Linked DNA regions of Homo sapiens. The protein of the gene in region 3 purifies or fractionates together with the protein of the main gene of each other region. This does not show direct contact. Each region holds a gene or a part of one and is shown on either strand. Other genes may lie near its edges. The genes, in order: MAP2K7, BCAP31, PGRMC1 and DUSP9.

The links.
Region 1: the proteins of PGRMC1 (region 3) and MAP2K7 purify together in Homo sapiens (affinity purification with mass spectrometry; 2 studies listed by BioGRID and IntAct, with this or other methods). This does not show direct contact.
Region 2: the proteins of PGRMC1 (region 3) and BCAP31 purify together in Homo sapiens (affinity purification with western blotting; 2 studies listed by BioGRID and IntAct, with this or other methods). This does not show direct contact.
Region 4: the proteins of PGRMC1 (region 3) and DUSP9 purify together in Homo sapiens (affinity purification with mass spectrometry; 3 studies listed by BioGRID). This does not show direct contact.

Annotation. Positions count from the first base shown.
Region 1 is NC_000019.10:7,906,875-7,913,898, forward strand, and holds part of MAP2K7 (dual specificity mitogen-activated protein kinase kinase 7), read left to right. Parts: intron 1-2,880; coding exon 2,881-3,022; intron 3,023-3,188; coding exon 3,189-3,255; intron 3,256-3,385; coding exon 3,386-3,499; intron 3,500-3,578; coding exon 3,579-3,698; intron 3,699-3,821; coding exon 3,822-3,929; intron 3,930-4,105; coding exon 4,106-4,285; intron 4,286-4,375; coding exon 4,376-4,456; intron 4,457-4,540; coding exon of another isoform or gene 4,541-4,561; coding exon 4,562-4,704; intron 4,705-5,274; coding exon 5,275-5,320; intron 5,321-5,422; coding exon 5,423-5,557; 3' UTR 5,558-7,024. UniProt on the Homo sapiens protein: Dual specificity protein kinase which acts as an essential component of the MAP kinase signal transduction pathway. Essential component of the stress-activated protein kinase/c-Jun N-terminal kinase (SAP/JNK) signaling pathway.
Region 2 is NC_000023.11:153,714,386-153,721,409, reverse strand, and holds part of BCAP31 (B-cell receptor-associated protein 31), read left to right. Parts: intron 1-437; coding exon 438-538; intron 539-5,720; coding exon 5,721-5,868; intron 5,869-7,024. UniProt on the Homo sapiens protein: Functions as a chaperone protein. Is one of the most abundant endoplasmic reticulum (ER) proteins.
Region 3 is NC_000023.11:119,239,284-119,244,989, reverse strand, and holds the end of PGRMC1 (membrane-associated progesterone receptor component 1), read right to left. Parts: intron 4,682-5,706; coding exon 4,526-4,681; intron 1,840-4,525; coding exon 1,736-1,839; 3' UTR 524-1,735; downstream 1-523. UniProt on the Homo sapiens protein: Component of a progesterone-binding protein complex. Binds progesterone. Has many reported cellular functions (heme homeostasis, interaction with CYPs). Required for the maintenance of uterine histoarchitecture and normal female reproductive lifespan.
Region 4 is NC_000023.11:153,642,406-153,650,225, reverse strand, and holds the start of DUSP9 (dual specificity protein phosphatase 9), read right to left. Parts: upstream 3,024-7,820; 5' UTR 2,801-3,023; intron 2,308-2,800; coding exon of another isoform or gene 2,273-2,307; coding exon 1,900-2,272; intron 995-1,899; coding exon 539-994; intron 247-538; coding exon 1-246. UniProt on the Homo sapiens protein: Inactivates MAP kinases. Has a specificity for the ERK family.

The DNA.
Region 1 (7,024 bases), on a different chromosome or scaffold from region 3:
GCCGGGCATGGTGGCACATACCTGTAATCCCAGCTACTCGGGAGGCTGTAATCCTAGCTACTCGGGAGGCTGAGGCAGGAGAACCGCTTGAACCCGGGAGGCGGAGATTGCAGTGAGCTGAGATCGCACCATTGCACTTCAGCCTGGGCAACAAGAGCAAAACTCCATCTCAAAAAAAAAAAAAACATAAAAGATTAGGTGGAGGTTGCAGTGAGCTGAGATCGCGCCACTGCATTCCAGCCTGGGCAACAGAGCAAGACTCCGTCTCAAAAAAAAAAAAAATTTAAAAAGCGTCTTGAAGGAGTTGGGGGGGGAGAGAAGACAGGGCCGCCAGGGCTCTGAGCGCAGCGCCAGCCTGTGTGGGGCATGCAGGCTGTGCCCCACGCCTGTGTTGGGAGAGAGAGTAGATGGGGTGCCTGGCCCTGTGAGTGGTTGTGAGTATGTGTGTCCGAGGGCAAGGGGGACTCTGTCCCGGCTGCATGGGTGTTAGGTCCACGGCATGCCCCGGGTGTGTGTTGTGCGTGCGTGCACTTGCACGGCATGTGCGTGCATGTTGACATGGCAGCCGGTGCACCTGTGGCTCCTGTCGGCAGACACGTGCCCTCCAGCCTCTCGCTCTCTCTCATCCGTTCTCTTTCTCATCCTCACCCTCTTGCTCTCACTCCACCCTCCTGAGCTGCCATGTGGCCATCACCACCTCTGTGGCCTCTGTTCTCAGGGCCTTTGTGTACCTCCTTCCCCCAGTGCCTACCTGAACCCTCCCTTCCATCCCCCCATGCTCCAGTCTGTGGTCCGGCAGCCTCCTCCCCAGGCTCCGGGGCCACCCTCGGAAGGCCTGGTGGGCTCTGTCAGGGAAGGGGCCCACAGGACTCCTCGAGGGCTGTGGTCGTCAACCGCTGAGTGCAGGGTGTGAGCGGGACTCGGATACTCTCTGAGGGCGGGAACTAGGCAGTGTCTCAAGAGATGCCAGGTGCACAGGGGTTGGGGGCTGGGTTGGGGGGAGCACAGGCCCTCGGGAGCCAGAAGGGGACTGGGGCTGTGGCTCAGGCCATGGACAGAGCAGAGGCGCAGGGACCTGAAGAAGCAGAGGGAGAAGCCTGGCCAACATAGCGAGACCCCATCTCTACTCAAAAGACAAAAATTAGCTGGGTGTGGTGGCGTGTACCTATAATCCCAGCTACTCAGGAGGCTGAGGCAGGAGAATCACTTGAACCTGGGAGGGGGATGTTGCAGTGAGTTGAGATCACGCCACTGCACTCCAGCCTGGGTGACAGAGCGAGAACCTATCTCAAAAAAAAAAAAAAACAGTGGGAGGTGACGTGGTGCTGCAGAGGCGGCAGTGGCCAGGACAGCGGGAGGGGCACGGGAGGTGAGGCCTCTAGGCCAGTCATGAACGCTGGGCCTGGCTGTGTCCCAAGGTCCCCAGAGCCCTTCCCCTGCTCCTGCCTGGTCCTCCAGGAGGGGAGCTAGGGGGCACAGCTCCTGCAGGGGCTGGCAGGACCAGATAGGGGCAATGCTGGGCCTCCTGCATTGGGACTGAGGCGTCTTCCTGCCCCTCCTACTGGCTGAGATCAGGGTCCTGGGCACACGGGAGGGACGGGGTTTAGCTGCCAGCATGGAGCGGGTTTGTCTGTTCATATTAGTCCCTGGGCACCAGTCACCAGGAGCCTGCAGAACTGTGGGGAGAAAAGGTGGACGAGGCAGGAGGAAAAGAGGGGAGAGGGGCTTGTTGGCTGAGGGCTTTGGAGAGCGGCAGGCCCCAGCTCCTGTGGGAGGGGCACCTTGGTAGGTGTGTGTAGCCGTTGTCAGGGCCTCTAGGATGTGACGTGTCAGGATTGGCTCCTCTGGAGGCCACGTTAGCATCCCGGCCTCTGTTCCTGCACCCTGTTGCCAGCCCAGCCAGGGAGACCCTAGCTCCTCCGGGAAGCTGCCCTCCTGTCCCAGGCCCCTCTCTGGCCTGTCTCTGCAGCGCCTCCTCTGGGCACCTGGGCCCTAGTCTTGGTTCCTGTCTGTCTGTCTGTCTCCTGCCCTCCCACCCCTAATGCCGCCTGCCCACCCCAGGGTGCCTGCTGCCTGCCCGCCGCCTGCCCACCCGCTGTAGCATGCCCGAGCTGCCCGCATGCAGGCTGCTGGATGAGCCAACCCCCGCCTGGCCCAGCATTGGCCCCACCTGGTCCCGCCAGCCCCTGCAGGAGCTGTGCCCCCGAGCTCTCCTCCCAGAGGATGCAGGCCCCCTGAGGTCCTGTCCTGCCCCCATGGGCCCCAGCTCTGCAGGCCAGGCCAGGAGGCCCTCATGTCAGCCCACTGGCCCGAGGGGGGCCCTCCCTGACCCCGGAACAGAAGATAGGGCAAGGCAGCCTGAAGCCTGGGTCTCGTGCCCGCTGCCTCCCCAGCGTGGCCCTGCTCGCTCTTGTCTGGGAGCCAACTTCAGTGCTACCAGCAGAGCCACAGCCTGGGCCAGCCCTGGCAGGCACTCCGCCCTGGCCTATCCATCCTGTGGGTGCTGTGGCCCTGGGCCTGCTTCCTGGGCAGAAGTGGGAGGAAGTGCACACACCTGTCAGGGAGGCCCCCTGGCCGAGGGACACCTCAGGTCCCCATCTCGTTTCTCCGTCAGCGTAGACTTGGGGCTCCCTCTCCCCTGCTAGCCTCCTCCATCTCTTTCCAGGTCAGGGGATGAGACAAGGGACCCTGAGAACAGTCTGGGGTGGGAGGGAGACCCCAGCTCCTCCAGCCCAGCAGGGCAGGGGGCTGTGCCAGCCTAGCTCGGGAAACCCAGGAGGGGAAGGTGAGGGTCCCGACCCCTCCCTGGAGTGCCAGATGTGGAGCTGACACCAGCTGGGCGCTGACCCCCCTCCCTGCCACTGGTTCTCACCCCCCTAGCCCTGCAGCTCCCGCTGGCCAACGATGGGGGCAGCCGCTCGCCATCCTCAGAGAGCTCCCCGCAGCACCCCACGCCCCCCGCCCGGCCCCGCCACATGCTGGGGCTCCCGTCAACCCTGTTCACACCCCGCAGCATGGAGAGGTGAGCCAGGGGCCCAGCAGGGTTGGGTGGGAAGCAGCATTGAGGGGCCACCGTGCCAGCCCTGGGAGGAGGGTGGTTAAACCGGTGGGAACCCCGGTATGGGGGACTGGGGTGGCCAACCTAAGGTCAGGACCCACCTCCACCGGCACCTGCTCCATGTCCCCAGCATTGAGATTGACCAGAAGCTGCAGGAGATCATGAAGCAGACGGGCTACCTGACCATCGGGGGCCAGGTACCACCTTCACTGTGGCGGGGAGAGGGAGGAGGCCCAGCCAGGCTGGACCCATCCTGGGAGCGCCAGTGGGGGGCAGGGGGCGGTGGCAGAGGCCCCAGGGACCCTCCAACCCTCCCTCTCCTCCCAGCGCTACCAGGCAGAAATCAACGACCTGGAGAACTTGGGCGAGATGGGCAGCGGCACCTGCGGCCAGGTGTGGAAGATGCGCTTCCGGAAGACCGGCCACGTCATTGCCGTTAAGGTGAGCCTTGGCGGCTACCCCGGCTGCGCCCCACACCCCAGGCCGGTGCTGAGGCTCCCTCCTGTCCCTGCCTGTGCAGCAAATGCGGCGCTCCGGGAACAAGGAGGAGAACAAGCGCATCCTCATGGACCTGGATGTGGTGCTGAAGAGCCACGACTGCCCCTACATCGTGCAGTGCTTTGGGACGTTCATCACCAACGTGAGTACCTGGCCGCGCCCTGCAGCGTCTCCTCCTCCCTCACCCCTGCCCCTTCCTAGGGAGCAGAGCCTCTGGGGGGTGGGCCGGAAGACACAGCTCCCCCGGGTGCCCCTCTCCCTGCAGACGGACGTCTTCATCGCCATGGAGCTCATGGGCACCTGCGCTGAGAAGCTCAAGAAGCGGATGCAGGGCCCCATCCCCGAGCGCATTCTGGGCAAGATGACAGTGGCGGTGAGTGACCAGGCGGGGCTTGCACTGGGCAGGATGACAGAGGCGGTGAGTGACCAGGCGGGGCGTGCACTGGGCAAGATGACAGTGGCGGTGAGTGGCCAGGTGGGGCGTGCACCGGGCAGGTGGCCTTGGGTCTGTGCCCCCTGCCACATGCACCCCCCTCTGCGTGCCTGCAGATTGTGAAGGCGCTGTACTACCTGAAGGAGAAGCACGGTGTCATCCACCGCGACGTCAAGCCCTCCAACATCCTGCTGGACGAGCGGGGCCAGATCAAGCTCTGCGACTTCGGCATCAGCGGCCGCCTGGTGGACTCCAAAGCCAAGACGCGGAGCGCCGGCTGTGCCGCCTACATGGCAGTGAGTGGGGGCCCCCCAGCGGGGGAGGGGGTGGGGGCTGGGAGGCCGGCCCCAGCCTTGGAGATACGTCTTCTCCTCCCCCCCCTGCAGCCCGAGCGCATTGACCCCCCAGACCCCACCAAGCCGGACTATGACATCCGGGCCGACGTATGGAGCCTGGGCATCTCGTTGGTGAGTTGGGGCCCTCCCCTGTTCTCCAGCCAGGAGTGAGGGCTTCTGGGGGACTCGGAGGGAGGAGAACATAAACCTGTCCAGCCCTGCCCGTCTCCCTCCCAGGTGGAGCTGGCAACAGGACAGTTTCCCTACAAGAACTGCAAGACGGACTTTGAGGTCCTCACCAAAGTCCTACAGGAAGAGCCCCCGCTTCTGCCCGGACACATGGGCTTCTCGGGGGACTTCCAGTCCTTCGTCAAAGACTGGTGAGAACCTCCCTCCACTTGGGAGGTCAGGGACAGCCCGCTGCTCTGGGCAGCTGGGGAGGCAATGGCAGGAGGGGAATGGAGGCCGCACCCTGGGATGGGCGGATGCGACTGTGGGCGGGCTCCTGGCTGGCGGCTGCCACAGGAGCTGGAGCTGGTGCCCAGGGAGCCATGAGCTGGGTTTGGACCTAGCCTGAGGGGACAGCCAGCCCTGTGGCATTTGGCGGGGTGGCTGTTGGAGATTGTGAGCACGCTTCTGCAACAAGCACAGCTACAAGTTCAGGAGGGCCATGTTCGATTCTCTCAGGGGAGCCCCACCCACCTTTCTGGGGGACCTCAGCCAGCTCTGGCCCCCCAAGCCAGGCCCTTGCCACCTGGCCCTAGGCCAGGAGGCTCCGGGACTCACAGTTGCTCCCCGCTGTCAGCCGGGGTCCTGAGGACATCCACAGCTCCTTCCCCCACACACATCTTGGGGACCCCTGGCCCCTTGGGGAGGGCCTGAGCACAGGGGTGGGGCCGGCATCCCCTCCTCCCTCGTTCTCACATCTGTCTTCCCTTCTCTTGCTCTAGCCTTACTAAAGATCACAGGAAGAGACCAAAGTATAATAAGCTACTTGTGAGTACCTGAGCCCTCCCAGTCCCCGTCCTGTCCCTGCGGAGGCGCGAGGCCAGGAGGGAAGACCGTCTCCTCCTAAGCCCCACCCCCTCGGGCCCACAGGAACACAGCTTCATCAAGCGCTACGAGACGCTGGAGGTGGACGTGGCGTCCTGGTTCAAGGATGTCATGGCGAAGACTGAGTCACCGCGGACTAGCGGCGTCCTGAGCCAGCCCCACCTGCCCTTCTTCAGGTAGCTGCTTGGCGGCGGCCAGCCCCACAGGGGGCCAGGGGCATGGCCACAGGCCCCCCTCCCCACTTGGCCACCCAGCTGCCTGCCAGGGGAGACCTGGGACCTGGACGGCCACCTAGGACTGAGGACAGAGAGTGGGGGGTGCCCACCCACCCCCCCCGCCCCGGGCCTACCAAGCCCCCGCCCTTCCCACCCCGGGGTCAGCCGGCCGTGTGCGTCCCCCGACAGACACTGTGAACGGAAGACAGCAGGCCGCGATCAGAGTCGCTGTTCATTCAGCCGCAGCCTCTGGGCCGGGGCGGCCCCCAGGGGCCAGGAGAGAGCCCTGGAGTCCCGCAGCCACCATGCACGCTCCCAGCGTGCTGTGTCCTTCGCCACTCCCACGCGCCCGTTCCTCTTCCGTCGCCCTCTGTCCCCTGCTCTACCTCTCTGTCCTTGTCTGGCTCTCCCGTCACCCTCCCTGCCTCTGTCTCTCTTCTGGCCTGAGCCTGGGCCCAGCCACCTCCTGACGGGTCCCCTGGGTCTGCATAGGTCTCCCATGGCGCAATGAGTCAGTGGCCCCCAGCCAGGCAGTGTGGGCATTGCCACTGCGGCTGGACGGGGCTGCGCGCTCGCGCTCTCTCTCTCTCTCTCTCTCTCTCTTTGATCTCAGGGGGTCCTTTTTGGAGTTTATTGTATTTTATTGTACTTGGTGGGGTGTTTGGGGTGGGGGCGGAGGAGAGCTTGTTCTCGTGGGGTTGTCGGTACCTTCAGAAACTTTTACCAAAGTCACGATTAGCTGCTTGTGGTGGGGCCCCAACCGCCCTCGGGCACTGGGGAGCTGGGCTGGGGCTGCTGCTCTGGGGTCTCCGGGGGCCACAGCTTGGGGTGAGTTGAAGACCTCAGGGGATGTGGAGGGGTCTGCGGGGCCCTGGCCGCACAGGATGGCCTTCAGGGAAGGTGGTCTTGGGGCATGGTGCAGAGCAGGTGACCGGAGGGAATCGGTGACGGAGCGGGGCCAAGGGAGGGGTCCGGAGGGAGTCAGGGATGGAGGGCAGAGGGAGTGGATGTGGGGGTTTGAGGACGTGTGACAAGCTCCAGCAGGGGTGGGGGCCGGGCTGAGGGTGGGGGTGCGAGGTGGTCACTCCCATCGTGCCCCTGGCCGTCCCTCCACTCACCCACACCTGGCCCAGTCCACGTTGAGGTCCAGGACTGGGAAGGACCGGGTGAGTGCACCGGGGACCCAGGCCAGGTGCCCCCCGGAGCCTGCTGGGGTGGCCAGAGCAGGAGGGGGTGTGTTTCCTTTTTGTGGGTGTTGCATGCAAATCAAGTGGACAAGAAAAAATAACAAAACAAAAAACAAGAAAAAAAAAACACAAAACCCCGTAAAATCACAAAGAAAATCCAACACCAAAGGCGCAGAAGCCGGCTGGCCGTGGTGGGGGCAGCGTAGGCGTAGCATCCCTCTCCTCTCACTTAGCCTGTTGACTCT
Region 2 (7,024 bases), about 34 Mb from region 3:
GGCTGGAGTGCAGTGGCGCGATCTCGGCTCACTGCAACTTCCGCCTCCCAGGTTCAAGTGATTCTCCTGCCTCACCCTCCTGAGTAGCTGGGATTACAGGTGCCCACCACCACGCCTGGCTAATTTTCGTACTTTTAGTAGAGACAGGGTTTCGCCATGTTGGCCAGTTTGGTCTTGCACTCCTGACCTCAAGTGATCCACCCACCTTGGTCTCCCAAAGTGCTGAGATTACAGGTGTGAGCCATTGCACCTGGCCTTTTTTCCAATAGTCTTGAATGGATGTCAAATTAGAGAATTGCAAGCCACTGAGGCTGACTTTGCATGGGCTATTCGGCCATTGGAGAAGAGTACAAAGCTGGATTTCCATTTTGCTCAGGGCCCTAGAGCTCGTGTGTGTGCTTTCTCTTCAACTCCTGTCCTTTTTGTCTTCTTCACAGATGGCAGAAGATTTTCAAGTCCCGGCTGGTGGAGTTGTTAGTGTCCTATGGCAACACCTTCTTTGTGGTTCTCATTGTCATCCTTGTGCTGTTGGTCATCGGTGAGTGAGCTATGGCTGAGGGCAGCTACCTGACCTAGACCCTGGTCTCTGCTGCAAAACCCTTTGCCACTTTTGATGTGTAGCATCCAGTTTTGGCTGCTAGGAGACAGACCAATGAAATGCTGTGTCTTTCTCTTGAGGGAGGGAAGAGGCTCCCTTTGCCCATGCTGCTGACCGCTAGTCGGTTCTTCACTTTGAGGCCCCTCTAGGCCGTACATGGTGGCTCATGCCTGTAATCCCAGCACTTTGGGAGGCTGAGGTCGGTGGATCACCTGAGATGAGGAGTTCGAGATCAGCCTGGCCAACGTGGTGAAACCCCATCTCTACGAAAAATACAAAATTAGCTGGGCGTGGTGGCGGGCACCTGTAATCCCAGCTACTTGGGAGACTGAGGCAGGAGAATTGCTTGAACCCACGAGGCAGAGGTTGCAGTGAGCCTAAATCGCACCATTGCACTCCAGCCTGGGCAACAAGAGGGAGACTCCATCTCAAAAAAAAAAAAAAGAGGCCCCTCTAGCAGTGGGCGTGGGCTTATACCAAGCAGTTTGTATGCAGCTTATGACGGCCACCTTACATTGCTTTTTTTCAAGACCTTGGAAGGAGGGACGCCTAAGGTTTCTGAGGCTGCTCCTCAGGTCACTCTAGAACTGAAGCCAAGAGAAGCTAACTGGCCTGTGACCTTGGTCTGAGTAGTGCTGCTCACCAGTCACTTAAACAGCAGAATTGCCTGGAGCAGGGCCTCTAATGGGGGACTGAGCAACCAAGCACACAGTGAAGTCCTGCCATTCCCTGTAGTAGTAGGAGGAGAACACAGAGATGTGTGGCAGCATATCTTGGGGAGAGATCCTAGACCTCTCTGCATCTGGGCTAGACTTGAGGTTTTCCCAGGTCGTTCCAGCTCTGTAGTTCTGTAAACTCTGACATTGAGGTGTACACTAGCAGGTGCTTGAAAGATAAACTGGTCCAAGGGCAAGCAGGCTCTGGGATAAGGCCAGGCCAGGTGGTGGTAAGATGAAAGGCAGACATTTTGCAATGAGGTGGTAGGGTGACCATCTGGAGACAAGAATCAATAAAGCTCTTGTCTGACTGGTAGATGTTTGTTGTTTTGCTGTGGTAAGTGATCGATATGTCCCCCTGTTTGGGCTCCAAAGTATTGGCTTGGCTCTGCTGTGGACACCACTCTTGTCTCAGAGCTGTGGTGCCTGCCTAGGCGTGGAACACTCCTCCCACCGAGTCCCAGCAGAAACACTGAGCGGGTGGGGGGCTGTGGTTCAGGGGAATGTGCAAAGCCTCACCCACCAGCTTCAGCATTAGGCATTTCTCCTTCCTGATGTCTCAGAGCCTGATAGGATATGTTCAGGCTGGACTGCCTCTGAACAGGCCAAGTGTTACCTGACAGCTTCCAACCACATAGGGTAGGTGCCAGCTGCCTGAGCACCTCAGTGTTCTTGAAATACTTGGCAAGGCCCCAAGAGGTAGTAGCTCTTTCTAACCAGGGTTCTCGCCCTGAGCAGCCTCCAAGCCAGGAGTAGGTAGGTAATATATGTGTCATCCCCAGGCCACTGAGTTTTTGAACTGAGCATGTGTGTTTTGGCTTTTGGGTCTGGGGTGGGGGTAATAACTGGGGAGGGGAGGGACCATGCTGAGGATGATTCCCTCAGGGTCTTGCCCCTTCCCCAAACCAGAAGGAGTATGTTTCTTTCCTAGAGCAGCTGAGTGGGCTGGAGAGATCCTTTGCGGAATCCAGTAGTTGACAAAGCCTTCATTCTTTTTTGGGATCGGGGAACTGCTTGGAAGTTCTAGGGGGACATATGGCCATGATGACTGGCTGCTTCCTACTCCCATGTTAAGAAGCATAATCTAGAAAGATCTGCAGAGCCTTCTTCAAACAGAAGTGTTAGTCACAGGTACTAGTGAAGGGTAAGGGGCATAACTAGCTAGAGCTGTGGCCTTGCTTGGGGGTGGGGAGGGTTGAGCAGATCCTCCTGGAGGATGGAGTTGCTGAGGGTGCAGGATCTTCCCACCTGGGCTGAGGCCCGAGACAGGGAGGGCTGGTTTCTACTGTGGGACTTGGGTTAGTATTGCTCAGTCCCCCATCCCCACTATTGGTCATTGGCCAAGGTGGTCCTTAGGATGGTGGGGTTCCTGGATGCAGGTGACAGTGTAAGGAAACATGTTTATCTTGTTTTTCTGATTACAAAAATAATGGGTAATTATTCTTAAAAATTCAAAAGTTGAATTTAGAAAGTTAAACTCCCCATAATCCCATTTCCCACAGGTAACCATCATGAGTATTTTGTTGTGCATTTCCAGAGGGGTTTTGTATGCTGACATCTTTAATAAAATGTCTACAACGGTGGGATCATACACACAAAGTATTTATGTTTCTTTCCACATTCCTGCTGGGACATGGCAGGAGGAGCATTCCACGCCTGAGCTGGTAGCACAGCTCTGAGATAAGACTGCTGTCCATAGCAGAGCCTAGCCAATACTTTGGATTGTGCTTTTTCTACCTGCTGCACGTTAGACATCTTTTTTTTTTTTTTTTTTTTTTGAGATGGAATCTCACTTTGTTGCCCAGACTGCAGTGCAGTGGCGCCATCTTGGCTCACTGCAACCTCCGCCTCCCAGGTTCAAGCGATTTCCCCTGCCTCAGCTTCCGAGTAGCTGCAGGTTACAGGCGCCCGCCACCATGCCCGGCTAATTTTTTGTATTTTTAGTAGAGACGAGGTTTCACCGTGTTGGCCAGGCTGGTCTTGAACTCCTGGCCTCAAGTGATCCGCCCACCTCGGCCTCCCAAAGTGCTGAAATTACAGGCATGAGCCACTGTGTCCGGCCAACATCTTTTTATAGCAATCTCATTCTTCTTAAAGATCATGTAGTATTCTCTCATGTGGTTGTGCCGTAATCCATTCTTTATAAGCATCTTCGAATCATTGCAAATTTATGCAAATACTTCTGTGGGATAATTTCAGAGGTGAATTGTTGAACCCGAGGGTATGAACATTTTGCATTTTATACAGGTGTGCTGTTTTTACCCCTGCTAACAGCGTTTGAGAGTACTCGCTTCGTGGTGCTGAGGGATGGGCAGATTTTTATAATGCAAGATCAACATAAAAACTAAGCAGCCTAAAACCGGAAATTAAGAACCCCATGAGGCCAGTGCCCTGACTCACGCCTGTAATCCCCACACTTTGTGAGGCTGAGGCAGTTGCTTGCGCTCAGGAGTTTGAAACTAGCCTGGGCAACATGGCGAAACCCCGTCTCTACCAAAAATAGAAAAAGAAAAAATTAACTGAGTGTGGTAGCACACACTTGTGGTCCCAGTTACTGGGGAGGCTGAGAGGTGGAGGTTGCAGTGAGCTGGGATCGTGCCACTGCACTCAAGCCTGGGTGACAGAGTGAGACCCTGTAACCCACCATACAAAAAGAACCTCGATACCCATACAGTGATACCTTGCTCCTCTCATATGGGAGTCTATTAAGAGCATTCTTTGGGTACATCTTAGTGTATTGACTTAAAACGATGTCTCAGGATGCATGGGGAAAAGCAGTAGGTTTGGCGTGGCTCAATTTCTACATTAGAGACAAATATAAATATATTTTTAACTGGAGCTCTATATGTCTAACAGCGGCTCTTTCAGGAGCAGAGGCTGCTCACTGACTCAGCAATTATTTCAGTGCCCACTCTGCACCCAGAGCTATCCCAGGCCCTGGGAATATAGTATAAAAGATTTCTGCTCTTATGAAGTTTGTAGTCTACTTTGGGAGAGATGGACCCAAAAAATGTGTTTAAAGAGAATTTCAGAGATGGATGTCTATTACGAAGCAGGTAACAGTGTAATGTGACTAAAAATGACTTTAGATGTGACCACATTTTTATTGTATATACTGCTAGATGTGATTATGTTATGGGATCCTTTCCGTTTCTACATTTTGGGTGTGTTTGAACTTTCGATGAGTGTGAATTCCTTTCGTAATCAGAATAAAACATTATAGATAATAAAACCCATTGTAAAGCTTTGAAATGAAACCCTTGACTCCTAGCTGGTATCCTGCAGGTCTTGACTCCTATTTTTTTGTTTGTTTGCTTGTTTTGTTTTGGCTTTTTCGAGACAGAGTCTCGCTCTGTCGCCCAGGCTGGAATGCAGTGGTGTGATCGTAACTCACAGCAGCCTTGACCTCTTGGGCTCAAGCGATCTTCCTGTCTCAGCCTCCCGAGTAGCTGGGACTACAGGTGTGCAGCACCATGCCCAGCTATTTAAAATTTTTTTTTTTTTTTTTTTTTTTTTTGTTGAGAGAGAGTCTCCCTGTGTTGCCCAGGCTGGTCTTGAACTCGTTGGCCTCAAGCAGTCTTCCTGCCTTGGCCTCCCAAAGTGTTGGGATTACAGGCGTGAGCCACCACATCTGGCCTGGGTCTTGACTCTTAAGCACCTTAGGTCCCCGGAGCAGGCATTTCCATCTCCAGGTTCAACTTATCATTGTGGGGGTTGGGGGGCTATGGGCCAACTTGAGATGAACAGAACAAGACGCGGTGAGGGTACCATGGGAAAAGGAAGCCACCCCCATTTCCAGAAACTCTTTAGGCTTGGTTAGCATCGTGAACTGCAGAGCAAGCCTGGGGCCTGTGTAGAATGGGGCCAGGGATTGAAAAGCTGGAGGAAGGAGTGGGTCTGAGGGTGGGAGCTTCCTTTTTTTTTTTTTTGAGATGGAGTTTCGCTCTTGTCCCCCGGTCTGGAGTGCAGTGGCTCAATTTCGGCTCACTGCAACCTCCGCCTCCCGGGTTCAAATGATTCTTTTGCCTCAGCCTCCCGAGTAGCTGGGATTACAGGCGCCCACCACCACGCCGGGCTAAATTTTTTTTTTTTGTATTTTTAGTAGAGATGGGGTTTTGCCATGTTGGCCAGGCTTGTCTCGAACTCCTGACCTCAGGTGATCTGCCCGCCTCTGCCTCCCAAAGTGCTGAGATTATAGGCGTGAGCCACTGCACCTGGCCTGAGGGTGGGAGCTTCTGATAACAGCATCCCATGAGGGGTGTATGTGCATAGAAGTGGGAAGAACTGGGGAGGCGGATTTGAGGGAAGTGAGTCTGACCTGTCTCATGCCGCCTGTCTGCCTGGTATGGCCTTATCTTGCCCTAGTGTCCGCTAAATGCCCGTGTCTCCTCTCTGCTCCACCACAGATGCCGTGCGCGAAATTCGGAAGTATGATGATGTGACGGAAAAGGTGAACCTCCAGAACAATCCCGGGGCCATGGAGCACTTCCACATGAAGCTTTTCCGTGCCCAGAGGAATCTCTACATTGCTGGCTTTTCCTTGCTGCTGTCCTTGTGAGTGGGGGGTTGAGGGGGCAGGTGCTGTGAAAGGAGCCATGGGCTAGCCATGGACACCGAGCTCAGTGGGCTCAGTCTCCCCCCTGTGACTTTGATTCCTCCTCAGTCTGTGGCCTGGATCCCAAAGCCCTGTCTGTGTTAGGGAAGCCACATAGTTTTCTCCTGACCTCCAGAGGCAGCGTGGAGAGTAGGAGAGGGCTGCCTGAAATATCAGAAGACCCTCACACACCACATACTCTCAGGCAAACAGATGACTATCTCACGGTCTGTTTGCATGGAGAGTGAGATGTAACGGTAAGGCCTTGCCCTCCTCTGGGAGAGGACCTTCAGAGTCCAGCTCACAAGGGAGCGACTGAATGGGGGACTCTTTGTGTCCGGGGTGTTGACCTAGGGACAGCAGGTAAAAGTGGCACGAAGAGGCTGGGCCTCTCCTCACCTCAGGGCCTTCCCCACGTGAAACTCGTAATGAGGACATGTTACATTCCATGGCAGCCAGAGTATTTCTGATGATTTTTTTGGTAAAACTAAGTACCTTAATCAAGGCTAAGGGTAACTAGTCGGGCAAAACTAGACCACTACGAAGTGCCTATTTGAGCCTGGGGCCCTGTTTGCTGCCTCCTGCTTCACATAGCCGTTCTGATCAGCAGGGCCTGGCTGGGAGGTGGATGGGAGCTCAGACCATGTATGAAGGCATTGGAAAGGCGCTTGCTTTGAGGGTGGAGCTCTCATCACTTAATCACTTCTCAAAAGACCCCACCTCTTAATGCTACGGCAGTGAGGATTAAATTCCAACACATGAAGTTTGAAGGGCACTCAGACCATAGCACCAAGTGATTCTCAGGCTCATGGACAGTTATTCCCCACTTGGTTTTGTGCCCCGAGACTCAAGAATCTCCATGCCTAGGAGATTCTTGCTCTCTAGTCACCTGGTGTGTCCTGCTTTACTAGGCGCTACGATGACTACTTGTCTTAAAATCTGTTGTTTAGATGATCTGGTACTCTCTGCGACCAAGTTGGAAAGAGGGGTGGAGCTAGAAAAGGCAAACACATTTTTTTCAAGATAATGGGTTTGATCACAGATTTGATCTACAAGCTTGCTGTCTTCAAACTTAGGAAAGTCAGGAAGGCTGGGAGGAGTCAGACACATACCCTA
Region 3 (5,706 bases):
CTGCCAATGTTAACATTAAAATGACAAAACACTAATAGGTTGTCTTTGTTTATACAACTGACTGCATATGCAAATCTGTTATGCTTCTTTTGACACGAGGTGAATTAACTTTGCTACTGTAAGGATTCCTGATACTTTCCTGATCAGACAATACATTAACACAAAAAAACCCAAACCCTTCCTTAGCACTTGGCAATGACAATGCCTTCAGTAACCTTACTTCTTAAGAACCTTGCTATAGACTTCAAGGTGGAGGTCTGCCATTTACAGTTTAGAAAGTTCTGATTTAGGCAAAACTTTGACAAGTCACAAAAAAAGCAATTCAATTCACTATTTCTTAAACAGGACAAGCTGGTATTTGGTTTTTGGTGTGGGGTCTCCATGAAATTTTGCCCCTTGTTTCTTTTGGAATACAAAAACTCTGCACTCAAAAATGAAACTGAATTTTAAGCCAAAGTAAAATGTCTGAATCAGATTCCCTAGAATAAGGTTTTTAAAAAAATTTAAATAAGTCACCACACTATAGTGGGTAAAACCATTTTTATTAACTGACCAAAGCACATCATTTTGTTTTCTGATTTGAGGTAAAATCATAAAACACAGTTCACAAGAAAATACAATGACTATTTAACCACAATTACAAGTTTGAAATCTCACTAGGTGTTCATATACTTTTACAAATTCATACAACTGTATAGTCTACTTAAGCTTAGTGTTAACCAAAAGAGCAATATCAAAGACCTAGACACTTGACTACTACTTTTGCAGTGGGTATAGTTTTATAACAACAGAATAACTGTTACCTTATGAATATACTTTACTTTAAAAACCACTTGACTAGCGACTGTACTGTTTCCTCGTGGTTCAGGGGTGTGCATGAAGGCTCTTAGGAGAGCAAACACCTGTTCCTATTCTGTATGTCCCTCCCTCATTTCAAATGAGAGTAACCAATTGAGTAAAATAACCAAATAACCATTGCCCCACCATGAACATGGGGCTTGGGAAGACAGTCCTACAATCTTCATCATATATTTAGGTTTTTAGGCCAGCCAGCTCTTTTTTTCCAAAGCTTTCTTTTGAATGTTCAGATCCTATTTTAATCCTAACTATAGACTACTGTGTTTGTGAGGGTGTCTGAGTGTCTATGTGAGGGCAAGGACAACAGTGCAGTCCAGAAACACAGAAAATATGCTTTTTTGCAGCTGAGCTCTGTTTTGAGATTTCATTTTGTTACTGGACAGCGCTTAATCCATACCAAAGTCTTTGGAACACTGCAGATTTGCTTTAGAGGTAGATAAAACAGAAATCATGCAGTTAAGTCAATTGAGAAAAAAAAAGGGATTTGTTGTCTTTACAGAACATCATGACTAAAAGTTGATCCTTTGCTCTTGGTGCACATTTAAGATTTTTACCTGTTTTGGGAAATACCCAAGTCTTCCTTGTCTCTCAGGAAAAACACATTTAAATTCATCCTGTACTAACTACAGATAGAAGAAAAACAGTATTAACATGTGTATTACAGCACTGCAGTTCACTTTCTGGATTTGTGACACACAAACACATCATGCATTCTAAGAAGTTAATTTTATTAGTGTCACTAGTGATGTTAATTAAAAAACTTATAGCAAGTGCTCAAAACTTTCTAAATATTGTAATCACTATGTTTTAAAGACAGAGTGGACTGTTACAAATGATTTTGCAAAATACAAAAATAGATATACTTCCACTGAATGCTTTAATCATTTTTCCGGGCACTCTCATCTTTTGGTTCTTCCTCATCTGAGTACACAGTGGGCTCCTCCCCCTCCTTCAGCAGTTTGCCCACGTGATGATACTTGACTGGAGGTAGAGAAGAAAACACAAATGGTCATTCTCATTCTTTCTAAAACATCATTACCACGTTTCAATTTAAAGCATTTATTAGAGGCCTGCAATATACTCAGCAATGTGTTGGGCTTCTTGAAGGATACAAAGGTGGTTTATACCACCGTCCTTGCCAACAGGGAATTTGTTTTGTTCAGAAGACAGACATATAAAACAGGTGGCAACGTCTGGCAATGAGTGTGCAAGGTAACGTCAAAATGAATTGTTTGTGTGTAAGGAATGTTTAGAAGAACAAGGGCAAGTGATGAGTTCATCAGAAGGGTTACAGAATACTTCATGGAAGGAGGATATATTTTGGAAAAATGTATAGAAGGATTTAGGGAGGGAGTTCCAGAAAATGCAAACGCCATGTACAAATGCATACAGGTGAGACAACGTATCTGGGAAGCAATGAAGAGACCAAGTTGGCAGGAGTAGAGTTAACATTTAGAAGTTAGTAGGAGATAAGATTGGCTAAGTAGTGTGGGGAAATATTATGAAAGATCTGAAAAGCCAGCCTGAGTTTGGACTTATAGGTGGCAAAGGGCACTGAAGGTTTATAAGCGAAGGAATGACACAGTAAAATAGTGCTTTAACAACGATATTATCAATGTGGTGTATAGGGCAGATTTCAGTAAGGAGAGACTGGGAACAGGGCGATCCAGAGGCAGAGTGCAGATCCAGATGCAAAGGAACCAGCGCCAGGAGCAGGGTGGTGTCCAGGGGAATGGAAAGGGACAGATGAGAAGTACTTTGAAAGAAAACTGGAAGCATGAATTAATTAAGTGAAAATTGGAGCTCCCATGGACCAAAATGGGAACTCTGTGGAGGGAGCCATTCTGGAGGCTCACATGACAGGAGATCTAAAACATGGAATGGACAAGTGAAGTCAGGATTGGCAAGAAAAAAAAAAAAGGTTTCCCTGAAAATCTTTCAGAAAGAGAGTTCAATCCAATTGTGGGGATAGAAGCCATATTGTAGGGAGGAAGAAGGTATAGAGAGGAAATGAAGTAGTGGTTAGGAATAAAAACTTGTAAGAAGTTTGTTTGACAGTGAAAGGAAGGAATAATAGTCTCATAGATGAAGAGGAGAGCAAGAGACAGAACGTTTTTCCCAGCACAGAGAAAAACCTATGGGTGGTTAAAGGAAGTGGTAAAGGAGCCAGGAGATGACTGGAGGTGTTGGAGAAAACAGATGTAAGGGTGCAAACCAGAATGCAAAAGACTTGAGAAGAGATGGCATCAGCAAACCACCTCATCACTGTAGCCAAACTAATGCAGGGTCGATCATCTGAATGTCCAAAGCCAAGAGTCTCCTCTTCCTGAATATGAGTAGGAATTAGAGGAGTAACCAACCTGTCTAACCAGGTAACTAAAGCTGCTTTTGTGTGAAATAACCGTTGGGAACAATTGGAACTGTGTGAGACAAATAAAAGCCAGGTGGCTCCTGGGAAACCTGCCTTAAGGGGAATCCACACCAACTTTAAGTGTAGCTGAGGTGTCACAACAGCATCTGGGGCTAGCCTTAAAGTGGAAAAAAAAAATCACACTTTTTCTCCCACTGATGAAGGCAAGCCCTAGAAAATAGAGCTTTGTAAGTTAGACACTACAATTCACTGGTTTCATATAGAAAACTAATTACAAAGGCATCCTTATGATGCCAAAAATTAGGGACTCTATTAGGTAACTGAACTATGTTTTCCAAAGTATAAAAACTTGCCTCTAGACTTGGAAGTTATATGTAGCCTGCTTGAGACCAAAACTCAAAGGCAGAGACACATCTGGCTAATTATTAATCCAGAACTCTCTCTGAAGTCAGCATTATTTTCAAAGAAAATGGTTGGATATAGCCAAGAGAACATGTAATATTTAACTGATTATAGAGAACACACATAGAAAACTACATTTTAAATGAAAAATCTTCAAATAATGCTCATGGTCTTTATATACTGTTTCATAAAAGCTGGGAAAGACTCTTATTCAAATTCTTGGCAGTGAAATATTGCTAGAGTGACAATTAAACAGTTAGATTTGACAGAAACCAATTCCTGAATTCTCAAAATCTGAACTTAACCCCTCATTCCTATTTCTCCCCAAAGACCTCAGCCCATAGCATAAGCCAGAAACAAGCATCTCCTTTTTACTTTCTTTTTAAAAATGCAGACACCATTGCTGCTGGGCACATTATAAGCATCATTTGTAGATGAGGCCTATAGTTAGGTTCAATTAGATTCAAAGAGAAGCTGTTTCACAGAATACAAGTCTCCCATTCTTCAACAGAGATGTGGGCTGCTTTTAAACGGCAAGCTCTACAAGAGAGGGCTTATGAAAATCCCTTTCTGTAGCCAAGATGGACACTGTCCTTTCCCTGACACACCAAGCACCAAATCCTCATTTGGAATCTAGCAAATCTCTCAAAAATTTTAAAATCAAAACCAGAAACCCAAGTTTCCATAGAGAACTGGCTAAAAATTGGTATGCAATCATAGCAAGTGACTCAGCACTGCTACAATTACTTCAAGCCATGAACTTGATGCGTCCAAGATTAAGGAGCCTATCAAAATGCACCCAAGTTTCAGGCTGCTTAGTAATAACTATTGTCCTGCCACGAATCCCCATTACTGGTAGAAATTTGACCCAGACACAATTTTAAAAATGCTTACAAGTGAACTGAGACTCCCAGTCACTCAGAGTCTCCTGCTGGGCAGCAGTGAGGTCAGAAAGGTCATCGTACTCATCCTTCAGTGCTTCCTTATCCAGGCAAAATGTGGCAAGGCCCCTGGATGCATCTCTTCCAGCAAAGACCCCATACGGCCCCTCTTCAAAAACAAAACCAAAGATCAATTCTTTATTAGACAGTCAATTTCTCTGTGATTTATACACAGAAAATGGCTTCCCTATTCATCAACATAGCCCCATTTTTGAATATCAAATTCCATTAGGAAACCATAGTAATGCTGATATTCTGAACATTATGTAGGAGACACAGAAAGACCTGTTGTCATTTAACTTTTAAATAACTAAAAGTAAATCAAACTGCTATACATTTGCGTCAGTCTCCTGTGGTTTCCAAATAGCTAGTAAAAAAGTCATACGTGGTTAGTGATCTCTTGGGGTAGTGGTAGTAGGGAATCATACAAGAACATTGAACTGGGAGCCTGACAGTTCTAGGCACTTGGGGCTACACCAGTGAGAGTTATGGTTTCTTAAGATAATAAGCACTGATGTGTACATGAAAACACATTTCCTTATGAATATATTCTGATATGTTTTAATGAAACAAAGGTATCTTATAGAGATCTTTGGTTCCAAGGCTCAATTAAACATTAACTCATGGCATCTGCAGAAGAACCATTTTATAACAGTATCGGTGGTTTAAAAATCTATCCACATTACATAACCTTCACTGTCAATAAATAGATAACACAGAGATCAGTCTTCATTATCTGTTTTTTGGTGGGCTTGAGAAGACTGTGAAAATACTAAAATTTTCATGGAAAAGAGGCTGAATCAATACTGCAAAACAACTCTATAAAACAACTCTATAAAATGTGATTATTTGTGATATTATACTGAACTTTTGTCTAAGAGAGCAGAGAATCATTCTGTGGGTACACAAAGTGGATATTTAGACTTATTTAAATATTGCACAACTAAATGAAGAGAATCCAGTGTACTTTAAACAATGTGTTGTTTCCCCCAAGGCAGATTGAATAGCAGCCCTGACATTAAAATGTTTGTAGGGAACCAAGTATGAGAATAGATCAAGTTTCAATATGGCCTGTTCACCTGAAACCTCAATACACTCAGAAATTTTTTACAAATTTTACAACTTTTAAATGCA
Region 4 (7,820 bases), about 34 Mb from region 3:
GCCCCCCACTGCCCTGCTCCTGCGAGTGGCGCTCCTCCAGCCGCAAGCTGCGCTCAAAGTCCAGCAACTGCCCCATGAAGTTGAAGTTGGGGGAGATGTTAGACTTCTTCCTCTTGACCAGGTCATAGGCATCGTTGAGAGAGAGGTGGAGCTTCTGCATGAGGTAGGCCACAGTGACGGTGACAGAACGGCTGACCCCCGCCAAGCAGTGGACGAGCACCCCGCAGTTCTGGGACAAGGCCTCATCTAGATGGGGCAGGAAAGGGCCCGGGAGACCCGGAGGGCAGGCGTGTGTGAGGCCGAGGCCTTCCGAAGGGCCCTCAAAGGCCCCGCCCTGCCCCCTGGGCCAGATGGCCACGACCTGCAGGTTTCTCTAGTGGCCTCTGGGGGCCGCCCTAGCTCTGCCTGTCCCCTAGAACTGTCACCTAGGCTTTTGGCTCTGGGAATGGCAGCGGGGCTTGGGAGGAGTACTCACAAGGGGGAGGCCAGAGCAGGCCTTGGGGAGGACAGGAGGGAAGGGTGGGTGGGGTGGACTCACCAATGAACTCAATGGCCTCCGGAAAGAACCGCGACAGGTTCTGGCTCCAGTGGTCGGAGATGGGGATCTGCTTGTAGTGAAAGTCACCATTCTTCTCGAAGAAGTTTGGGAGGTTGGGGGTGACATTGAGGATGTAGCGGATGCCCAGTTTGGCCAGGCTCTCCAAATTGGCGGAATCCCGGGCACTGCCCAGATAGAGGTTGGGCAGGATCTGGACAGGGAAGGATGCCCGCAGCCCCACTGGTGGGGGTGTGGCACCCTCCGAATCCAGGCCACAGCTCATGGAGTCGCGGTCAGCCTCGGATTCCGCATCAGAGCAGTCGGAGCCCAGGCACAGGCTGCCCAACCCCACCACGGGCACTGGACCGGGCACCGGCGCCATGCTGGAGCCGGCACGGCCAGCAAGGCTGGTCTCACACAGGTGAGGGCACTCGGCCTGGAATCTGCTGAAGCCTCCTGTTGGGGAGAGGGCATGGGGCCTGCTGACCTGGCCTTCTGGGCAGCCAAGTGCCTCTGTCTGGGGCTGGGGAGATGACCCTGGACAACTTGGAGGGTTTGCAAATGTTCCCAAAGGGAACACAAAACCCAGCAGCTTGGTGTGTCCTGGTACCCACGTGGGGCCCTAGCCACCCTCAGTCAGCTCGGGCTGCAAGAAGCTGGGCTCACGCTGAGCCACCGGAAAGGATCTTACACCCCTAGGGTCAAGCTGAGGCAGGTGTGAGGGCTCAACAGAGCCGAGATGCACTGCCAGCCTTAGGGAGGACTGCGGCCATCAGCTAAAGAAAAGGAGGAACTCAGATGTCAGCTCTCTGCCTGGGCATCTCCTGACTCTCAGGGATGAAGTGGGACCCCAAGATGTGGGGGAACTTGGGGGAGAATATGGCTCAAGAAGCCAGCATCTCTATTTACAGATACTATTTCCCCGGGCTGGACACCTGACACTTTATATGCTGTTCGGGAGGCTAAGGCAGGAGGATCGCTTGAGCCCAGGAGGCTTCAGTGAGCCGTGATTGCACCAGTGCTGTCTGACCCCTGCCTCCCTTGCTCATTCCTGAGCAGGTTGGGGAGGTGGGGATACCCTTGCCGAGACCCTGGGGAGCCCGCACTTTGTAATTCGTTCTTGAGCATCCTGAGAACTAGCTCAGGTCAGGCTAATTCTCCCCATTTTCCAGGCTCAGAGACTGGGCTGCCGAGGGTGAAGAACTTCCCCACGGTCACACTCAGGCTTCCCTCCTCTCAAAGCAGCCTGGCAGGTCATCAGGGGAGGGGGGCCTCAACTCGCTTTAGAAAAAAAGAAGTGGGGCTGGCCTAAGGTCAAATGAATCCCGAACCCCCTGGAAGGAGGGCCCCGCGGCACCTACCCTGGAGGTAGTAGGCCAGGTAGCCTTCCTCTCGCAGCTTCTGCAGCAGGGTGCCCAGCACCGACTCGGCCTCCCACTCCTCGGCCTCGGCCTCGGCCTCCCCGCGCCGGCGCCGGCCCCCGCCCTGGTCGTACAGGAGCACGGGGGCAGGCGGGGGCGGCTGCAGCGGCGGCCCAGGCAGGAGCGCGCGCACCGACAGGCTGCCCCTCCGCAGGCGGCGCAGCAGGAGCGCCGGCAGGGCCACGCTCAGCGCCCCACCGATGCGCGCCGACTCGTACAGCTCGCGGCTGCGGCAGTCCAGGAGCAGGAGCCGCGGCCGCGGGGGCGACAGCTCCCGACGCAGCCACAGGCACGAGCGGCCCAGACCCTCCATGGGCGATCGGCTCCCTACACGCTGGACCACGGGCGCTGCGAAGAGAGAGAAGGCGCGGTGTGAGCTACCGGAGGGCCGAGGGGGCTCAGACTTGAAGCCGGCCCCGCGTCCTGAAGGCGGGAGCCCAGGGTCCCCCACCATGAGGACTCCCAACAAGGCGCCCCAAGAAACCCCCCAGGCAGCAGCTCGGCCCGGGGAAGGGTCCTCGAGAAGAGGGCTGAGCGGCTAACCGCCCCTTCGAGGCTCATCTTGGGGTACCCTGAGGTCGCAGCCGCCTCCCTCCATACCCCCTTTCTGCTCCTGTCTCGGTCTTCTCGCGAACGCTCCCCAAGTTCGAGCTTCCGACTCTGGCTGGGGGTGTGCGTGCGAGGAGTGCCGTTCGAGGCCTAGATCTCCCCCAGGGCCAGGTGGGCCAGGGGAACAGAGGAGGCGCCGAGGTGCTGGGCCTCAGCGAGTCCTCTCAGAGGTGGTCTGGCCCCCGGTCCCCCATCTCCCCCTACCCCTAGGAGAGAACAAAAGGAAAGAGACCTGGAGCGAGATCCGGCGGTGGACGACCGCGCGTGGACGTTCTGGCCACGGCCACTGCCACGGCGGAACGCGAGGCGCCGTCCCGCGGCAGAGAGTCCCCAGGCCTGGCCGCCAGGAGAGGGCGGGGCGGCGGTGCAGGCTCGCACGTGGAAGCCGAGCCCCGCGCAGCCCGCGCAGCCCGCGCACCGGCCGCTTCCTGGCAGCCGGACCCAGCTTCCACCTTGGAAACTGCCTTCGGACGTGGAGTTACAACTCCGAGGGGCGGGCCGGGGCGGGGCTCCGGGGGCGGGCCCGGCGGGCCGGTGAGCCAACGGGTGCTAGCCGAAGCAGTCGGGTGGGACCTGCGAGTCGGCTGAGCTGGGGCTTCCACCGAGGCGGGACGGGGTCGGGGCAGAGGCCAAGGGCAGGTCAGGGGCCCAGCAGGGGACCAGCTGCGGCTCCCCTGGCCGGCGCCAGCCTGGCCTCGGGAGGCAGGGGGAGGGGTGAGGACCAGAGCCCAGCCCCTCTGCCGCAGAAGCTGCCTCCAGCCCAACTCACAGGGTGATACTGGAGCATCTTCTCCCCTGCCTGGATCTCAGTGGCCCCATCTCTGTAATGGGCTCAGAGCTAGCAGCTTGGGCAAACTTGGGATGCCACCGAAATCACGGAGGGGAGGAGGAGGCAGGACCAGAAACTTAGTGCAGCTTTGGCCCAGAGGTCTGCTGCAGGGCTAGGCAGGCAGGGGTAGCTCCTGGATACCTACCAATACCAGCCCGCTTCACTCGCACAGGACTGGCCAAAAGCACCCAGGAACCCTGAGCTCCCAGCCCTAAACTGGGGCACTCTGCTCTTATCACATTACTGATCCTAAGAGTCACCCGTGGCTCCCCCCTCTGCCTCCTTCCCTTAACCCCCCTTCGGCTAATCAAAGTGGAAAGAACTAGTTTCTACCTAAATATCTCTCACATCCACGCCTCTCTCCCCTGTCCCTTGCCCTAGCCGAGGGCTCAAATTCATCAGCTTTAGGCCAGGTCACTGTCACGTCTTGCACAACAGTCTCCCTGCCTCCGGGCCTGCAACGACCTGCCCTCCACCCTGCCCTGCCCAGCCCTGCCCAACGTCAGAATGCCATCCACTCAACCAAGGCTGGTGGCCTCCATCCTTTCCTCCATGGGCACAACAGGCGGGACAGATCCACAGGCAGCAAGAGCACTGGACAAGGTCTCAGGTGTGGTGAGCACTGAGGCAGGAGACCAGGGTCAGGGGGAGGTGTCCACAATGCTGATCTGGCTAAAAGTCCCTTCTCTGCTTAAAGCTCAACAAAAGCAAATAACAGTGTTGAAGGAAAATGTACGCCAGATAAGATAAAGCTCATACCCAACTAAAAGGTTAAGACCCCTGTAGATAAATGGGCAAAGAACCTGAAAACACTGCATACTGCAGGAAGGAGGGAATGCGGTGGCCTAACAAATATTTGGGGGAAGGTTCAACTTCAGGCGTGGAAGGAAAGCCACTCCAATAAACAAGTAACAATGACCAACGAGGTAACACTTCCCACCTACTGCATTAGAAATGTTCTCATTTTTGAGAACACGCAGTGCTGGCAAGATTGCTGTGAAATCAGCGTGCTGTTCAACTGTTGCAGGGTTATATATTGGTACGGCCCCTTTGGAAATTAATCTGGCAATATCAAGAGCTAGGAAAAAATCCCAACCCTTTGACCACTTTTGGGAATCTAAGGAACTAAAGTAAAAGAAAGCAAAGTTATGCACACGAGGATGGGCACCACAAAGCATTTTTCTAACAAGTGGAAAATGCAAAGCAAACTACGAGTCTAAAGACTCCTCTCAGGAGCCATGGAGTTAGAGGAGAAAATGTCTCAGGTCATGGTTAGGTAAGAGGGCAGGTGACGGAAAGCTAGGTGGGTCACCTCTAAGGGGCTTCCAGTTTGCCTCTCTCCCTCCCTTTCGGGCAGTGGGCTGCTAGCCGGGGACTCCCAGGACCCTGGCACTGGGCTGCTTTCCGGCCACACCCCCCATGTCCCTGCGTCTAACAAGAGTCCTAATTCCTGCATCCAAGGGCTTTGGGCAGCTGGACTGTGCCCTTCCTTCTCTCACCCAGTGGGCAAGGGCCCCAGCCCAGGCCTCCCTCCTATGCCCCCTGCCCAGATTCTGAGATTCTGCTCATTCTTCAGGCCCCCTCCTCCAGGCAGCCTTCCCAACTCGGAGCCAGTAGTCTCCCTCCTCTGTGCTCCCTAGTGTGGTCACTTTCCCCCTTTCTCAGTGTGTTCCTGGGGCAGGGACTTTGTCTTCTGTTTTCTGTCCACAGCCTAGCTCCACAGTGGTGGAGGTGGACACCGGCACCCAGCCTGGGGGCTGCCTCCAGGCCCACTGCAGCTGTGGGTGGGAGCTCAGAGTGGGCAGGGGTTGAAGGCACCACGGAGGTTCTGCCATGTGCCAGTCTTGTTGTGGAGAGTGGGGGTGGCGCAGGGCTGTGACCAGCAGGGAGCTGGACAGCCACTTCCCCGGCCCGCCCTGCCGTGGGGGCTCAGTTCGGCTAGAGAGGGAGCTCCTGAGCTGCTCAGTGGCGCTCTCTGGAGAGGGTTCCCTGGAGGTGAGAGGAGCTGGGCTGGAATGAGGACGGGGAGAGGCAACCTCCGCAATGGGGAAGGGAGGGGAAGCCTAGGATCCAAGGGTCCACGTCTCCCGACGCTTGGCGAGGGGCTCCCCTGCACCTAACTGCGGAGCCCTGCTGCCAAGTCCTCGCACCGGGAGAAAGCATTTGGGAGGAGGCCATGAGGGGCTCAATTTCCAAAGTCAGAGCTCAGTGCTCGGGGCCCACAGCGCCCGCAGCGCCAGCAACAGGACAAATGGGAACCTGTTGCCACCTCCGCACTGCAGGGCTGAGCGCAGCCAACCCCCTAATCCCCCTCTCACCCGCGACCCTCGCCGGGCCGCCCCCACTCAGGCCCCCTGTAGCGCCGGCTCTGGGCGCCGCCCCGCCGGCAGCCGCTCCCGGGTGCGCTGTGCTGGGGGAGGCCGCGCCGCGCGCCCGGGCCTCGTCTGGCCCCCTCCGGCGGGCTGAGCCAGGCCGCGCGCTCGCTGCCCGCCGCAGGGTGGGCGCTGCGCCTGCCGCCCCCGCCCCCGCCCCCGCACCCGCCCCCGCCGGGCGCCCCGGGCCTCCGCCGGGCCGGGCCAGCGCCCCCTGGAGGCCGCGGGGACGCCGCCGCCTGCAGGCCTCGCGCGCGCCGCGTGCGCCCTCTGGTCCCGGGAGCCTCCCGAGAGCGGCGCCGCGCCGCCTTCCCCCACGAGATGCACCGTTCCCGCCGGGCCGAGTGACAGGATTTCGGCTGTCGCGGCCGGGTCACATGGCCAAGAGCACAAGTCCCGGCGACAGCGTGCCTGCCAAATCCAGTGTCTTTTCCACCAAATCCACTTTCTGCTGGGGATGGCTTTCTGCTTTTCCTGGTCGGTCTCCTCGCGGGACTGGGAGTTCCTCCAAGGCAGGAACGGGTGTGTGCCCGGCCCCAGGCTGGCCCCAGCCCCCAGTGCAGGGCCTGGCACGCGCCCGGCGCTCGCGGAAGAAATGCTCGTTAACAAAGAAGGCATGAATGAATGAAACCAATTGTTGCCTGAGGGAGCTGCTCCTGCTTTTCCTTCTGCCGATCACACACTCCTCCCCCACCCCGACACGCACAAGCACACGTGCACACACAGCCCTCCCCGTAACACACACGCAGGCAGGCACCCAGACAGCGCGCGCGGACGCCAGCCCCCATGGAACCCACCTACTACGTGCTTGCCGGGCAGCTGGCGCCCCTTTGGTCCCACCTGGGCCGCCTCCATTTCAGCGCCGGGCTCTCTCCGCCGCCTCCCCGCCCCTCCCCGGGGCCCCTTGCTTCCACATCTAAGTACCCTACCTTGGACCCCAAAGTGCCTTCTTTATTTCTTAGGGAAGAGGCCAAGCTAGTCGCTGGGGAGTCTCAAGGTCTGTTTAGGGAGGCACCTGGGGGGCCCAAGGCTGCTGAGCCTCTGCCGAAGGGGAGCCAGAGGTGCCTGGCAGGGATGCCACCAAATGCTGCAGCCTCTAGAGCCCGCGTGCCAGGTGTTGGGGGTGAGGGAGGGAGGGACTCAGAGATGTGCTGGGGGGTGTCGAAGGCTATTTGTGATGGGGGCGGGGCAGGATGCTGGAGAGCGTGAATCCAGCAGGTGTGCGCGCGTGCTGGGGTGGATGAGAGTGCGCGTTGGAGATGCTGGAGGTGTGTGCCTGGGACGTGGGGAGCGTCAGCCACTGGGATGTGGGTTTCTGACGGGACCTCGCTCCAGGATGGGTGGACTGCAGTGTCTCTGGGCTGGCAACGTGGGTGGGGTGTCTGTAATGGGCAGATGGGGAGTTCGAGGTGGTGGGGGCATGGTAGGGGGAGCTATGTTGGTGCAGGTATGGCAGAGACGTGTTGGAAGCGTGCGTGTGCGCCTGGGTGTGTACTGGGGCGTGGCAGGGTCTCGGTGGGTTGGCATGAGTTGGGGACAGTGGTGAGTGGTGGGGCAGGGGCAGCTAGTGTGTGCACTACAGGCACCCGGGTCTGTGGTGCGTGGTTTGTATGCGCGCGAGTGTGCAGCCGGTGCAAGTGGCAGGAGACACGGGAGGTGCACGGGCGGCGTGCGGGGGTGTGCGGAGCAGCACCGAATGGGTGTCGTAGGGGCGCGTGCGCCGGCTTCGTGGGGTGTGCGTTGTCAGGACTTTGGGGGTGCAGGGTGGAGGAGCGCACGTCGGGGCGGGGGCAGCCAGGCCGGGTGGGGGGTGGGGGTCCCCGGGGCGCCGCTTGCTCCACTCACCTCCGCTCTGCTCGGTTCTCCGCGCCGGTTCCCTGCGTCGCGGCCGGGAAGTTTCCGAAGCTCGGGCGGCGGGAAGCGCCACTGCTGCAGCCTAACGCCACCGGAACCCCGGGTGGCGGCCTCTCCTGGAGCCGAGGGGCAGCCGCCGCCGCCGCTGCGGAGGGAAACTCCAAATCCCGCCTCCGCCGCCGCTGCCTCCTCCGCCT